Regions from separate parts of the Homo sapiens genome. Here region 2 is linked to region 1. Evidence: fine-mapped expression QTL. A gene starts in region 1. The other region holds a variant in brackets. All regions are shown on one strand. Distances are from middle to middle.

Region 1 (5,374 bases):
GATAGAACCCCCCAGTTGCCCACAGCTAAAACCAGCTCATTAAGGCACCCATTTCTTGCCTTTTCTCCCTTCTTCATCTCACTCTCCTCATTCCCTCACTTCCACTGCCCGGCATCATCTCCCAAATAGACTCCCTATATCCAAGCTCTTGTCTTAGGGTCTGCTTTCAGAAGCAGGAGAATCAAACAAAGATGTTAGTGACTACCTCTTTGCGTATACACTTGTATATGTATATTTCCAATAATAAACCTATGTAATTTTGCATAAAGGGGATCACACTACACATGCATTCAAAAACCTGTTTTTTTTTCTAATTACTCACAGTGGGTAGTGAACATATTTCCATGTCAATAAAGAAAATCCTAAGCACAGTTTTTAATGTCTGCATAGTATGCCATTGCAGAAGTGTCTCATTTTTTATTTAATTTACATAATTTATGGCTATCTGGATGGTTTCCAATTTTGCACTGTGATGAACATGCTCAGGCACACATCTTTGCAAGTGTGCAGCTCAGAATTTGAAAAAATTCTGAGCTGAGGGAGTGCGTTGTTGTCTCCTAAGTGTACACTGTGTTTGGTCATTTCTTCTGGAATTTTAATAGAGGTCAAAACTAATCTTAGCAGTGTAGAGGCTTTTTAGATAAAAAATTTATATTTCCCTTTTTTGAAAATCAGGACATTTGCCCATCTTCAGTTTTCTGGCACTTCCTTCATTCTCTGTAGTTTCCTCAAAAGCAATGATTATATCTGTAAATACCTCTGGGTCGCTGGGATGTCATATGTCTGGGCTTCAATGAGTGAGCTCATTGTAGGTAACTTGATGTCTTCTTCCTATCGCTTGACTATCTTGGGTCTCTATTTCCTCCTTATCCTCTTTATTCCACAATTTGAAGTAAAATTGCCTGTATCTTGCTCTGCCTGCCCTCGAGCCTAAGCCAGAGCAGATTCCTTCTTGTTATTCTTAGACTTTGAAAGCTTTTTGCTCTTGTCTTTGCCAATTTCCCCCGACTTCTGTTCACTGGAGCTTCAGGGCTTTGCTAACGCCATTCTTACAGATCTGCCAATCTTCCAGATTCCTCTTGGGTTATTGATTCCTTCTTGCCTCTTTTGTGTGTGTGCTTTTCATACCCTGGCTCATTGGAAAACTACAAGTGCAGCCTCACAAGATTTTCTATAAAACTTGATTTTATTTTTTAACAGCAGTGTTTGCAATTACTAATTGGAATTTTGGGGTTTTATTACCTCTTGCCACAGCTGCCTCATACTGGCGTGTTGTACAACATATCTTATTTTATCCTCACAGACACTCTCTGAAGCCAGCTGAATGTTAAGTTCCCCCATTCGATAGATGGGTGACCAGTGGCACAGAAAGGTTTAGGCACTATCTCAAAGACACCCAGCAAGACAGTGGACGAGCCCTTGGTTTTCCAGTTTCTTAGCCTAAATATGGTTCCCCTTGTCCACAATGGCTGAGAGAGGGTTCTGGTAAAGTGGGAGCAAGCAGCCTTATGCCTTGGTCCGCTATCCCTTAAAATCCTGAAGGTAAGGTCCATAGTTCACTCTCCTTTCCTTAGGGAGAGAAATTCTCTCTACATGGAGGATATCACCTCTAGAATCCCATCTCCCCAACAACCCCACCCCTTCAAGCAGACAAAGTCGGTGACAATTCTTCTGAAGCTAATAGCCAAGCTGTCCTCACCTGGTCTCAAATGATTCTCTGCTCAGACAGCAGGGATTGTGTGCGTGCACACACACAACAGGGACTCTCTCTTTTTGTGTGTGTGTGTGTGTGTGTCTTGTACATGCACACACATATGTACAACACAAATACAGAGGCACCCCAGGTCTTTCTCTCTCTCTCTCACTCTCTCTCTCTCTCTCACACACACACACAAGCACAACATGAATACAGAGGCACCCCCAAGTGTTTCTCTGCCTGTCTCTGTCTCCCTCTCTCAGTGTCTGTCTCTATGTCTCTGTCTCTGTCTCTCTCTCTCTCTCTCTTTCACACACACAGGCACAACATGAATACAGAGCACCCCCAGGTCTTTCTCTCCATCTGTCTCTTTCTGTCTGTCTGTTTTTCTGTCTCACATACACACGCACACACACACACACCATGAACACATGGGCACCCCAGGTCTCTCTCCCTCACTCAGTGTCTCTGTCTCTGTCACACACAGAGTGTCACAACGTCTGGCTCTGGACAGCCATGGGTGATCAGCTGCCCGGCCCTCTCCTCTCCCTTCGCCCCATGCCCCGGAGTCGGTACCCTGCCCCACGGCTGGCCCCCAGCCCCAGGACCACTCACCCTCCATGATGCCCCCAGTTGCGGGCTCCGGCGGTCTCCGATGGCGGGAGGCAGCGGGCCCCTTCGGGCCAGCGGGCAGAGGGACGGTCTCCGGGCACTTGGTTGCGGGCTGCGCCCCTGCCTCCGCGCTCCGCAGGTCCGGTCGGTCCGGGCAGAGGTGAGCAGGGGGCGTGCGCTCCCAGGCCCCGGGCCCTGGCCGGTTTCCCTCCCCTCGGGCTGACTGGCTCCCGCGCAGCGCTGCTGCCCGCAGGGCTCAGCCGCCCGCCGCCCCTCGCCTCCCGACCAGGGGAAGGAGGGGGCTCGTGAGGCGCAGTCGTCATGGCACCCGCGCACCTGTGCCCGCCGAGCGAGGGCGCCCCGGGCCCGCCTCCCGCATGGCGCTCTCTCCACAGAGCCCGAGCGCCCCTCCGAAGTAGGGGACACACCCCTCCTCCCACTGCAGCCCTGGCAGCGGCGTCCCGTAATTCCCCACCTCTCTCCCGTGCCTCATATGCCAGCCTCTGTCCCCACTCCTCATCCTTGCCCACCCTAGCCTGGGGTCCAGCACTCTGGGCCTTCCTGAGAAGGGGATGAGAGGTAGCTGTGAAAACAGGAGGGCTTCGGGAGGGAGGCAGGGGGGAGCCCCACCAGCTCCCGGCTCTCCCAGGAGAATGGGGACAAGTTCTGCTAGGTGACCACGGCTTTGAAATTAACCAGTTCAGGCATTCACCGGGTGGTACCCTTGGAAAAGTTTCTTATAATAATACCTGTGCCTGAGTGTGTTTCTGCATTTGTAAAATGATTTTGAGGGGAGTAAATGTGATACCAAAGTTTCAGCCCAGCCCATAGTAGATGCTCAACAAATGGTTCCTTGAGCTGAATTGGAGAATACTCATCTCCAGCCCCTGTCAGGCACCCAGCAGGCACCACCATAAATTTTCGCCACATGAATAAAGATCCCAGGTTCTATCTGCACTCCTGTGTTTTTCTTGCAGCACTGTTTACAATAGCTAAGATTTGGAAGCAACCTAAGTGTCCATCAACAGATGAACGGATAAAGAAAATATGGTACATATATGTAAATGGAGTACTATTCAGCCATAAAAAAGAATGAGATCCAGTCATTTGCAACAACATGGATGGAACTGGAAATCATTATATTAAATGAAATAAGCCAGGCACAGGAAGCAAACGTCACATGTTCTTACTTATTTGTGAGATCTAAAAATCAAAACAGTTGAACTCATGGACATAGTAGAAGCATGTGGTTACCAGAAGCAGGGAAGGGTAGTGGGAGGATAGGGATGGTTAATGGGTACAAAAAAATAGCTAGAAAGAATGAATAAGACCTATTGTTTGACAGCACAATAGGGTGACTATAGTCCATAATAACTTAATTGTATATTTTTAAATAGCTTAAAAAGTATAATTGGATTGTTTGTAACTCAAAGGATTAGTGCCTGAAGGGATGGATACCCCATTCTCCATGATGTGCTTATTTCACATTACATGCCTGTATCAAAACACCTCATGTACCCCATAAATATATACACCTACTATGTACCCAACTATTTTTTTAAAAAAAGATCCCATGTTCTAGGCAGATGAAAGAAAGTGAATGGTCTATTCCTTCCTCTTTTAGGAGTCAGGAGTTTGCTCACTGGACACTGGGGAAACAGTTGGCATCAAGATTCTTCCTAGTCTCACTTCTTTCCCTAGTTCCTCCTCTGTCCAGAGCAGTGGGCAGAGTCTCACAGCTAGAAGGTCCTTAGGGGTCACTGAGTCTAACCCTGACCCAGAGCGGGCATCCTGACCCTAATCCCCAGCAAGAAGTATCCCCAGCAATGGGTACCTCTGCCATCATGTCCCTCTCTCTTCCCCTAGGGCAGCCCTTCAGAGGTCAAGTGGGAGGGAAGTTGCTCCTTCAACGCTGCTGTTCTACTGGAGAAACACAAGAATTTCACTGGGCTTTTTTCTTTCTGTGACTTGCCTCAGTCTCTTCATCTGTAAAATGGGCATAATAATGGCACCTATCTCCTATAGTTGTGAAGATTAAAGCAGTTACTATATACAAAGCATGTGAAACAGTGCTTTGCATATAGACAGTACGCAAGAAATATTATTCATCTTATCACTATCTTGAGTCCACCTCCCTGTAGAAGTGCTCACATTTCTTGAAGTCCCTCTGATAAAACCCAGAAGTATGTCAGGTCATATTAAGCCCCCTTGAGCAATGCAGAGTTTGAGGCACTGTGCTGTAAAGTCTGTATAGCCCAGCACTGCCATTTAGAGTTGGTGCGCTTTGGGAAATTTATATGTCTTTGTGCCTGAGTTTCCTCTCATCTACAAAATAGGGATAATAGTACCTACCATGTAGGGTTATGAGAATTAAATGAGTTAATATATGTAAAGCCCTGACAACATGTAGGTACTCAATAAATATGAGCTACAATTACAGGGGCAATAGAGTTTTTTTTTTTTTTTTTTTTTTTTGATAAGGTCTTACTCTGTCACCCAGGCTGGAGTGTAGTGGCACAATCTCAGCTCACTGCAACCTCTGCCTCCCAGGTTCAAGTGATTCTCCTGCCTCAGCCTCCCTAGGAGCTGGGATTACAGGCATCCACCACCGCAACCAGCGAATTTTTTCGTATTTTTAGTAGAGACGGGGTTTCACCATGTTGGCCAGGCTGGTCTTGAACTCCTGACCTCATGTGATCCACCTGCCATGGCCTCCCAAAGTGCTGGGATTACAGGCTTGAGCCACCATGCCCAGCCGGGGCACTAGACTTTGAATAATGCAGTCTCACTTTTTCGCTTTCTTCCCTTTCCTTCCTTCTTTCCTCAGCAGCCACATCATTCTAGCGCCTTGTGGTCAATTGCTCCACCATCTTTTTTATTTGAATAGTTCCAGATCATAGAGCCTTTTCTTCCTTTTCCCTCCTCTTCTACAGACATTTTTCTTCTACCATTAAAACCTTCCTATAGTGTCAAGTCCACGTGGTACCAGACAAAACAAATTTCGTGGATCTAGCCTTGGAGAGCAGGCAGGGCAGTGTGTCTGAGTGTGAATTCTATCTCTACTAT
Region 2 (5,374 bases), 29 kb before region 1:
GTAAATTCTATATTATTTATATTTTACCACATCCACAAAGAAACGAACTCCCCACATACCCACAATGTCTCACTGCTTCATTAAAGCATTGTCATGCCTGTTATCACTCAGATCTGAATGGGCAGGTATAGCCTCTGATTGATTTTTTAGAAGAAACAAAAATAACAGCAAAATATGTTAATTGTAACCTTCAGCGAGAGCTGAAGGAGTTTTTTGGGCAGTTATAACCTTTCAAAGCATGACATCTTTTGGGGGAAGACAAAGGGGCTGTGATGGAAAGGTTGGCTTGAGTGAGTACTTTGGTATCCCTACCCGCCCCCAGCCTCAAATGCTGATCTTGTACTTGGGGAGGCTATGCTAAAGGAGAAACACACCCCAGAGGAGACACCAGGTGGTGTCTTCAGACAATTCCCACCCAGCCATAGGGATAGGCATTTTGGGTTTGAGACGGCCCTTTCTCTGGCTTACTTTTAGAGCCTGGAGTCAGACTTCTTCACAACAAATAGCCCAGAACCAGCTGGGAACTCTCTGGCCCATATGACACATGACACTGATACAGTACCAGAAATGCATGGCACCAGCTAATACCACTGAGGGGCAGGAGGGCATACTCTCTCTCAGACCCTCATCCATCACCCCCAGAACCAGGACAAGGTCATGATGGCTCTTGGCAGCCTGCTCAGCACCAGGGCAAGAACAACTCAGGCTGGACATTACGAGAGTAAACACAATAGATTTCTTTCCCAGACCAAGAGCTTGGGCACCAGGAGTGGGCATTCTGGTTCACTGTTAGGCAAAAAAGCCTTTGGGGAAATTACCAGCTCTCCCGTCATCCCCACCTTCCTTGAAAGGCAGCATGTGGGGTGGGAAGAACAATCAGAAGACAAATTTTAATCTAAATCCTGCCCCTCTGTGGCCCTGGAAACTTGGCCCCTTTGAGCTTCAGTCACTTTGTGAAATGACAATAACATTCAATCTCCTTCAACCTCATTACTATGGATTAAATGAGACGGTGTCTGGGGACATGCTTGGAGAATGTATTGTACAACTGCTTAGGAATTTTCTTCTGCCCCTAAACCTGGAACTTAGAGTGGAGCAAACAGTAAACAGTCACTGTGTGTCGGTTAAGGGAACAGAGCCTCAGAGCCCCGACCCCTGGAAACGTTTCTTTTTTGTTTACTAAATTTCTAGCAACACCGTGTTTTCTACAGAGGTGGGGGGAAATGTCCATTTAAGTGCAAGATGAAGGGGCCTGTGAAAGGACCCTCCAAGGCAATCCCATGTGCTCCCGTCTCCTGGAAAGAAGCCACATTTCTTCAAGTTGATGCAGGGGTGTTGGGGGAAAGCCAGAGTAAACAGGGCTCTCCTGGTACCTCCTTAGAGTACACAAGTCATTTGTGCTGGGGAAGAGTTTAGTGTGTGTCCTTCAGGAGTCTCCAAATGGCACTCCGGCTGCAGCTTCAGTTGACCAACTTCTCCCTCCCAGGAAGCAGGGAGGAGAGAGACCTTGGGCAAGGCTTTGTACCTGCAGCCCCAGTGAGCAGATGTGTTTCCCAATGTGGAAAATGCATACCGTGCTTCCCCTTCCTCGTTGTCTATGAGTACGTAAAAGGACACCTCCTGTGGCCCTGCAGCATTACAATGTCTGTGGCATTGTAAGTTCTTGCCTTGGTCTGGGAGTCCCTCCTCTGTTCTCTAAGCTCAGACCCAGAGGGCAAGACCTAGAGTGCCCTGCAACTGAGGCAGCCTCCCCAAGGCTCGTTCTGAAGCTGCCGTCCTCTGAGGACAATGGCTTCTTGGAACTTCTTGGAACAAACAAGACAAACCAACACATTAGAGCCGGCAGCGGGGGCACACCGTGTTCTTCTAGAAAAGGATCAAGGGGAGTGGCTTCAGTAACGGAACATGAGGGACTCCCTCACATGGACACAAAGCATCAAGGGACAGGCCGGCTTTGCTTTTCGCTTCTTCCTAGCTGCCTAATTAGGACTTACTCAGTTCACAGTGTTCTACCTTACCGGGCCCTCTTGGAGCCAGCTGGAGATGATAAAAACCACACAGGTATTGGAGTCAGATAGCTTCACATGCCATTTCCACCTGAGAAACTTGGGTGAGTCACATCTCTCCAGGCCTCAGTTTTTGCATCTGTAGAAGGAAGAGAAGACAACCTATCTCCAAAGCGTTGTGACAATTCAGTGAGATGATGTTTGTCAAGCCCACCACACAGGGCAAGTTGGTTCCTTCCCGTCCCCCGCATTTGCCTCTACTGAGGGTGAAGGCAGCAGAGAAGACATCACCAGCAGCTGCCCACCACTGCCTGGCTCTGGAGAGGGAGGGACCACGCATCCTCACCTAACCACACCAGGCCGCTATCGCCTGCATGTATCTCGTGTCCAATCGGGGCCCTGAGGCAGCGTCCCGCCCTCCCTGGACCCCCTCAGATATCCCAGGCTGGAATGGTGAGGGGCAGGTGGGAGCAGCCAGGCCCTTCCCTGGGCAAGCCGTGGTGAGCCACCCGCCCATTCCGCAGCGGGAGGCGGCCGGGCCTGGGGGCCCCACTGCTAGGGCCCGACTCAGAGGGCAGCCCGGAGTCGCTGGGCCGCACCACCACGAAGACCCGCCTGTGCAGAAGCCCGCCGGGCCGCTCGGAGTAGGCCTCCTTGTGGCTCCCCGACGGGCGCGGGCAGAGGCGGGCGCGGAAGGCGGCCTGGAAGCCGCGGCGGAAGTTCTCGTTGAAGTAGCCGTAGATGATGGGGTTGGCGCTGCTGTTGAAGAAGGCCAGCCAGTGCGCGAAGGGGAAGGCGTAGACGGTGACCAGGTGCAGCTGCGGCGCGCTGAGCTGCCCGTAGTCGATGAGCAGCAGCAGCGCCCAGAGCGGCAGCCAGGACAGCGTGAAGAACAGCGCCACCATGACCAGCATGTGCACCACGCGCGCTCTGCGCCGCGATGCTCGCGGGTCCGCAGCCTCCTCGCCCCCGGGGGCCGGGCCCGGGGCCTGGCAGAGCTTGCGCGCGATGCGGGCGTACATGACCACGATGAGCGCCAGCGGCGCCAGGTAGATGTGCGAGAAGAGCACAGTGGTGTAGACCCTGCGCATGCCCTTCTCGGGCCAGGCCTCCCAGCAGGAGTAGAGCGGGTAGGAGCGGTTGCGGGCGTCCACCATGAAGTGGTGCTCCTCACGGGTGACGGTCAGCGTGACGGCCGAGGGACACATGATGAGCAGCGCCAGGGCCCAGATGACGGCGATGGTGACGAGCGCCTTCCGCAGGGTCAGCTTCTCGCGGAAAGGGTGCACGATGCAGCGGAACCTGCCGCGGGGAGAGAGACAGGCGGGATCTGGGTGGGTCCTAGGGCCCCTGCGAGGGGACGGTGGGTGGGATGCGGGCACCTGACCTTCATCATCGCATCTAGGGCGGCGTCGAAGAACAGCTCAGACCTGAATTGGCTGAGTAGTCAAAGAACAAAGGCAGCTACAGGATTTATGAGAAG[G/T]GAGGAGGAAACCGCAGATCGTGTGGGAACAATGAATCCTGTGTGCACTTTTGCACTTTTCTCCTTTTTTTTTTTTTTTTCCTGAGACAGGGCCTCCTTCTGTCGCCCAGTCTGGAGTGCAGTGGCGCGATTACGGCTCCCTGCAGTCTCCACCTCCCGGGCTCAAGTGATCCTCTCCTCCCACCTCAGCCTCCTGAGTAGCTGGAACCACAGGAATGCGCTGCCACCTCGCCGGCTAATTTCTTTCAATTTTTGGAGAGATGAGGTCTCACTGTGTTGCCCAGGCTAGTCTCAAAGTCTTGGGCTCAAGCTATCCTCCGGCCTCGGCCTCCCGAATTTCTGGGATTATAGATATGAGCCTCCTTGCGGGGCCATTTGTGTACTTTTGGGGGTCAACTGATTAGCTGGCAGCTAGCAGAGCGATCAGAGTGCGCAGTCTGTCCTCGACAAGGACGATTAGGTGCGTCAAATAACACAGTTTCTGTTTATGGATTCTCCAGAAAACCTCAGGAGGTCAGATGTAGAGCCTACATGTCAGGCTGTCCCTATGTCATCTTGGCCATAGTATCAGTATCTCTACAATGCAAGGACAAGTCTGCACCATTTATTTCCTCATGAGGACAACTCAGCATCTGTTATTACACCCTTTATTATTTTTTAAAGGTGAGGCCTTTAAGATAGTTACTACACTGTTGATTTACAGACAAGGAAACTGGGACTCGAGTGTTAAGCAGTTGGCTCAAGTTCACATAGCAAGTTGCAAGGACCAGTCTTGAACCCAGATTTGTCTTGCTTCATATGCCATATAAACCAGTAGCTGTAAACCCTCCATGTGCATGAGACTCTCCTGAAGCATTTCAACAACAAAGACAAAACCCGTGCCTATTTTTTCAGGCCAAGGATTCCAACCTAATTAGTCTAGAAAGTGGTTTTAGCATTATTTGTTATGTGCTGTTTTTGTTTTTAAAGCTCCTGGGGTCAGGTGCCATGGTTCATGCTTATAATCCCAGCACTTTGGGAGGCCAAGGCAGGAGGATCACTTGAACCCAGGAGTTGGAGACCAGCCTGGGAAACATGGTGAAACCCCATCTCTACCAAAAAAATTAACCAGATGAGGGGATGCTTGCCTATTCTTCCAGCTACACAGGAGGCTGAGGCAGGATAATCACTTGAGTCCAGGAGTGTAGGGAAAAGAAAGAGAAATCAGACTGTTATTGTGTCTGTGTAGAAAGGGAAGACATAAGAGACTCCATTTTGAAAAAGACTTGTACTTTAAACAATTGCTTTGCTGAGATGTTGTTAATTTGTAGCTTTGCCCCAGCCACTTTGCCCCAGCCATTTTGACCCAACCTGGAGCTCACAAAAACATGTGTTGTATGAAATCAAGGTTTAAGGGATCTAGGGCTGTGCAGGACATGCCTTGTTAACAAAATGTTTACAAACAGTATACTTGGTAAAAGTCATCGCCATTCTCTAGTGTCAATAAACTAGGGGCACAATGCACTGCGGAAAGCCGCGGGGACCTCTGCCCTTGAAAGCAGGGTATTGTCCAAAGTTTCTCCCCATATGATAGTCTGAAATATGGCCTCATGGGATGAGAAAGACCTGACCGTCCCCCAGCCCAACACCTGTAAAGGGTCTGTGCTGAGGTGGATTAGTAAAAGAGGAAAGCCTCTTGCAGTTGAGATAGAGGAAGGCCACTGTCTCCTGCCTGCCCCTGGGAACTGAATGTCTCAGTATAAAACCCTATTGTACATTTGTTCAGTTCTGAGATGAGAGAAAAACCACCCTATGGTGGGAGGTGAGACATGTTTGCAGCAGTGCTGCCTTGTTATTCTTTACTCCACTGAGATGTTTGGGTGGAGAGAAACATAAATCTGGCTTA

Direction of the effects. Alleles are on the strand shown, and positions count from the first base shown. SD is a standard deviation of normalised expression in the study named.
For the expression in tibial nerve of the gene that starts at base 2,646 in region 1, allele G in region 2 goes with a higher level than allele T (small effect, 0.32 SD a copy in GTEx).

The links. PIP is the estimated chance that this variant, and not a neighbour inherited with it, causes the effect.
Region 2: its variant is the best candidate, but not a certain one, in a credible set for the expression of NPFFR1 in tibial nerve (GTEx, PIP 0.57).

Annotation. Positions count from the first base shown.
Region 1 is chr10:70,281,359-70,286,732 of GRCh38, forward strand. It overlaps NPFFR1 (neuropeptide FF receptor 1), which reads right to left and starts at 2,646. Exons shown (of 4, transcript NM_022146.5): 1 at 2,312-2,646. The coding sequence starts at 2,318. RefSeq lists an enhancer at 1,853-2,354.
Region 2 is chr10:70,252,520-70,257,893 of GRCh38, forward strand. NPFFR1 (neuropeptide FF receptor 1) reads right to left here. Exons shown (of 4, transcript NM_022146.5): 4 at 1-3,308. The coding sequence ends at 2,438. Among named protein-coding and RNA genes, the nearest start is that of PPA1, 22 kb to the left of the region's middle. The variant G/T (reference allele first, on the strand shown) is at 3,490.